2 separate regions of the Homo sapiens genome follow, and region 1 is linked to region 2. A link means that fine-mapping ties the variant in region 2 to the expression of a gene that starts in the linked region. Tissue or cell type: naive CD8 T cells. Region 2 holds a variant in brackets; the other region holds the start of a gene. All regions are shown on one strand. Distances are from middle to middle.

What was found. PIP is the estimated chance that this variant, and not a neighbour inherited with it, causes the effect.
Region 1: FAM174B starts here. The variant in region 2 is fine-mapped to the expression of FAM174B in naive CD8 T cells (Schmiedel 2018, PIP 0.93).

What each region holds. Positions count from the first base shown.
Region 1 is chr15:92,654,488-92,657,170 of GRCh38, reverse strand. It overlaps FAM174B (family with sequence similarity 174 member B), which reads left to right and starts at 1,396. Exons shown (of 3, transcript NM_207446.3): 1 at 1,396-1,855. The coding sequence starts at 1,512. RefSeq lists silencers at 1,220-1,269, 1,550-1,749, 1,850-1,899, 1,950-2,019.
Region 2 is chr15:92,830,706-92,833,388 of GRCh38, reverse strand. No RefSeq gene overlaps it. Among named protein-coding and RNA genes, the nearest start is that of CHASERR, 51 kb to the left of the region's middle. RefSeq lists enhancers at 255-314, 1,071-1,270, 1,651-1,700. The variant G/A (reference allele first, on the strand shown) is at 1,109.

The sequences.
Region 1 (2,683 bases), 180 kb after region 2:
AACTGATAGAATATGACAAAGGTGTGAGAATGTCACTTCTGTGATGAGGTTTCATAAGACAGTGACTTCTGTCTTGGTAGGTGACTCTTTCTATTGCTATCTTGACTTGCATACTTTGATGAAGCAAGTTGCTATGTTGGAAGGGCCCCATGCCAAGGAACTGAGGGCAACCTCTGGCCAACTGCCCCAAGGAAACTGAGGCTCCAGTCCAACAGCCAGTGCAGGGCTGAATCTGGCCAAAAAATGCTGATTGAGCTTGGAAGCAGATCCTTCCCCAGTTGAGCCTTCAGAGGAGACCCCAGCCCCAGCTGACACCTTGATTGCACCTTTGGGAGAGGCTCTGAAGCAGAGAACCCAGGTAACCTATGGTCAGTTTCCTGACCCACAGACTGTGAGATACTAAATGCATGTTGTTTTAAGCAGCTAGGTTTTAGGGCAATTTGTTATGCTGCAGTAGACAACTAATACACTGTACTATATTTGTCTCTTTTTCCAGCAGGACCAGAAATGGGCTGTTTAAGGTCCCTGGGACCTTGTCATGTCATGTGTATTTAACTGTTTACCCACCACCGAAAAGCTTCCTGCCAGGACCCATCTGCAGTGTAAAAGGGGAACCCTGAAGCCCTGGGAATGGCTCCTAGTACTTCAGGTAGGGGCTCTGTGTCCCCATCAGTTTCCACCTTTGGGCCTCCCACTAGAACTTCCTTAATTGTCTTTCTCCACCTAAGCATCATTTAGCTTACAAACCAGAGGCAGCAAGCCAATTATTCCCCGGAGAAACTTCAGCCAGGCAGGGGGGCATTAACCACACCAACTGGTGTTCCACAACAAAGGTATGAGAGGCAGAGATTCACATCCCAGTCCGGTTCGTAAGCAGAGGCGCATGAAATAAGAAACCCCTTTTGAGAAAGAGGGAAATTAGGGGAGATACTGAAATTATGCGTTGCATAGGACATCAGGCAACCACTTCACTGTCGGCTTCAGTTTTTGATCTGCAAGATGGGAGTCTACTTCTAGGTCCCATAGTTTTTGATTCTTAGTCTGACACAATGTGGGTTGCTGTGAGCTGGCTCTTTGGGTGCCAAGTCAGCTATCAAATGTGGGTAACAGAATACCTGTCTTCAAAGGGGGTTGTAGAATTAAATGAAATAAATAAAACACGTGAAACGTGTAACACAGGGCCAGCCCAAGTGTCATCGTGGCAGTTGCTGCTTCACCACGGGGTCTCAAGTCCCGAGGAATTGGGGTCGCGGGCGAGCGGAGCGCAGCCGGGACCCAGGCCGGGTGGCCTGCCCCGCCCACGTGGGGCCGCGGCCCGTCGAATGACTCCTTGCAACGTGTTGGTGGTGGCGGCGGCGGTGGCGCGGGCTCTTCCGGGCGCCGCAGCTTCCTGCCAAGCACCGCGCAGCCGCCTCCGCCGCAGGATCCCCCGGTGCAGGCCTCCGTGCTGGTGCGGATCCTGGAGCTCAGCCGCGCGCGCCCTGCCCGATCCTGTGCCGACCCACCGCACTATGCGCGCCGTGCCGCTGCCCGCCCCGCTCCTGCCGCTGCTGCTGCTCGCGCTCCTGGCCGCTCCCGCCGCCCGCGCCAGCAGAGCCGAGTCCGTCTCCGCGCCGTGGCCCGAACCCGAGCGCGAGTCGCGGCCACCGCCCGGCCCGGGGCCCGGGAACACCACCCGGTTTGGGTCTGGGGCGGCGGGCGGCAGCGGCAGCTCCAGCTCCAACAGCAGTGGCGACGCCTTGGTGACCCGCATTTCCATCCTCCTCCGCGACCTACCCACCCTCAAGGCAGCCGTGATCGTGGCGTTCGCCTTTACCACCCTCCTCATCGCCTGCCTGCTGCTGCGCGTCTTCAGGTGGGCCCTCCCGCCCTCTTCCTTCCCCCGCCGGCCGACAGGGCGGCATCGCCAACCTGCTGTCGCCGCGCGCCCGCCCCACCTGCACGCACAGGTGCCCTGGTGCGCCCCAGCCAGCCGTGTGCCTCCTGCCCTGCCCGGGAGAGTGGGTGGGGGGCCGGGGTGTGCTCGTCTGGATTTTCCTGGTACATGTTTTAGGAATTTTCTTTCCTCTCTTTAACTATATATATAAAATAAATATGTGGTTCCCATTTGTTGGCTTTCTGCTAATGCTGAACACTAACAATAGCGCTCTGAATTCTGACAGCGTTTCCCATAATTTATTTTTATAATCATTTCACAGATGAGGAAAACATTTTCAGAGAGGCAAAATGGCTCATCTAAGGTAAACTCAGTGGTGGAGGTAGGACTTGAACCCAGGCCTGTCTAACTTTAATCTCGCTACTCCCTCTCCCTTCTACCATCTGCAGCTCCCTCACGCCCCGCCTACTTTTTCTTCTTCTTCTTCTTCTTCTTTTTTTTTTTTTTGCTACTGAAAGAAGCAGTTTCTAGTGTGGGGGGTAGTAGAATTGCCTCCAGAATTACGCTGGAGGGGTGCTTTGCACCAGGGGTTGGAGCTGAGCTTCAGGATTCTAGGCGACCCTTGGTGGCCTCCCTTATTTTCTGTTGGTGGGGGACACAGACGGCTTTCCTAGGCTCCTGCCTAAGTTGCGCTAGATGAACATTCACAGGGGCATGAGGGATCTTGGAGAGCCTTTTGTAGGTTGCTCACGTTCAGGGATAAAGTGTCTGGTAAATTAGGAAGGATGTCCCAGGTCCTTGATCCCT
Region 2 (2,683 bases):
GGGCAACATGGCAAAACACCATCTCTACAAAAAATTAAAAATTACCTGGGCATGGTGGCATGCACCTGTAGTCTCAGCTTCTCGTGAGACTGAGGCAGGAGGATTGCTTGAGCTAGGAGAGGTTGAGGCTGCAGGAAGCCAAGATTACGCCAGTGCACTCCAGCCTGAGTGACAGAGCAAGGACCTGTCTCAAAAAAAAAGAGAGAGAGAGAAATCTTTGTCTATAAATATGCACATCCTACTGGTTCTGTTTCTCTGGAGAGCACTATTACAGCCTGCTTTGCTAGTATCAACAAAACCACGGGCTTCTTGTCCAGAAGTTTTTGCCCCTGCTTCATAACTGCAAATGGAATTTTCATGGAAAATATTTCCTGTGTTGCTATTTTTTTTTTTTTTTTTTTTTTGTCATCCAGGCTGGAGTTCAGTGGTGCAACCTCAGCTTACTGCAACCTCCCCTCTGGGTTCAAGCGATTCTCATGCCTCAGCCTCCTGAGTAGCTGGGACTCCAGGTATGCGCCACCACGCCTGGCTGATTTTTGTATTTTTCATAGAGAGGTGTTTCACCACATTGGCCAGGCTGGTCTTGAACTGACCTCAGGTGATCTGCCTGCTTCGGCCTCCCAAAGTGCTGGGATTACAGGCATGAGCCACAGTGCCCAGCCACATTACTTCTTAATAATAGATAATGTGCCCTAATATACAGTATTTACATAAAGCCTTGCAGCAAGGTGGCAGTTTTCAGCCATTTTTTGAGGAGGATGTGAACAGGAGCCGTTACACGGCTCATCAGTCATCTGTTGCAAAGAAGCTGTGCTCAGCAGCGCAGAAGGATATCTTTCATTACTGGAAACCGTGAATCAGCTCGAGTGAAACAGGGCTCTGTCAGCTTATAACACTTAATTATGTTTTTAACTCCATAAATTAGTTCAAGTAAAGCCGTTTGAAAATAGCCAATTTCCAGTTTGAACTTACAGAAAATTAATGGCAAGAATGCAAACTTCTAATGTGTTAAGAAATTATTTGAATTTCTTAACTGTGTCTCCCACTAAAAGTTTGTGCTTTAAATTTTGTGTCAGTTCTGCATCAGAATTATTCAGTTTCCTCTTAT[G/A]CAACAAACCCTAGAAAATTCTAAAGTTTCAGAATAAGAGCATTTCCTAAAGAAGAGAAAATATATTGGGGGTGGTGGGGGGGAATGGGATCAGTACGTGGCTCAAGTTTTTCACCCTTGAGGAGTTAAGAAAAACACTTCAACATAAGGACAAAAGCTCCCTTGTTTAAGCACTTCCCCAGCTGCACTTCAACTAAATATATCCTGGGCAGAGTGTTTTCATTTCTCCACCCCTCTCCTGAGCCAATCACATGGTGACAAACAGCTCGGAGGCCCCTTGGGACTAGCACTGCAGAGGTACAGGCTTGGTTACAGGGCTTCGCGTTCCTTTCCAGCACAGGCCTGCTCTGGGCCGCCCTGCCTCCCCCAGAGGCTGCAGGGAGCCCCAAGCAGGCGCATTGCGGGCTCTGCTCAGAGAGACGCCTCCACGGGTTAATTCAGCGGCCTCTGTCTGGAATTCATGCACCACCTGGGCTGACAGCATGAATGACTCATTGTTTCCCCTCTGAACAGGCTGAGGAGTGCTTCTTGGTGTCAATAACTGAGGCAAAGTAAAATTGTTTTTTCCCTTTCAACATGACCAATTTTCTAAGACTGAATATAGAACTGGAAATCTGCAGGGTGTGTTTCTTCTGCGGCAACGGTAGCCAAGGTTACTGCTTTGAGTTGGTCTGCAGGGACAGAGGATTAAAATTTACTGTCTATAAACAGAAGAAGGCCTAAAGCCAGAGCTCCTTTATTTACAGCTTGTGTCATGGTTTTATAAAATGAAGGAAACTTAATTGAAACCTCTAGTTTGTGTAAACCTGGGATCTGACTGTACACAATACCTGATTTTATTTCTAATACCCGTGATTTGTATAAATGAAGATTTTGATGATAATTTTCCCATAGCTAAGTATAAGACATGTATGCTTTGAAGTCCATATATGAATCTTCCATACCAGCATTTCCAAAGCAGTGTATTAATAATTATGCCCCACCTTCAATTTTCCTATATGGCACCCTTCTCATTTTCAGTTACTTTTAGTTTCCTTGGGAAACTGGACTGGTTGATATTCCTGGACTATGGGATCTTTTTGCCTTGCTTACGCATATCTCAGTCCAAAAGCTTGACAGCCAGAACTATACAGATATTTTACTACCTTTCTGCAAGTGTGCGTGTATAACACTCTTGTTTCTTTGAACTCTTGTTTCTTTGGCCTCTTATACTTTCCTAAACTTTAGGTGTTTTTTTAAAAAAATTCAAAAAGAGGCCGGGCGCGGTGGCTCATGCCTGTAATCTCAGCACTTTGGGAGGCCGAGGGGGTCAGGTCACGAGGTCAAGAGATGGAGACCATCCTGGCCACTATGGTGAAACCCCATCTCTACTAAAAATACAAAAATTAGCTGGGCATGGTGGTGTATGCCTGTAGTCCCAGCTACCCGGAGGCTGAGGCAGGAGAATTGCTTGAACCAGAGTTGGAGACTGCAGTGAGCCAAGATCACACCACTGCACTCCAGCCTGGCGACAGAGCAAGACTCTATCTCAGAAAAAAAAAAAAAAAAAAATTCAAAAAGAAAGATGTAGAAAAA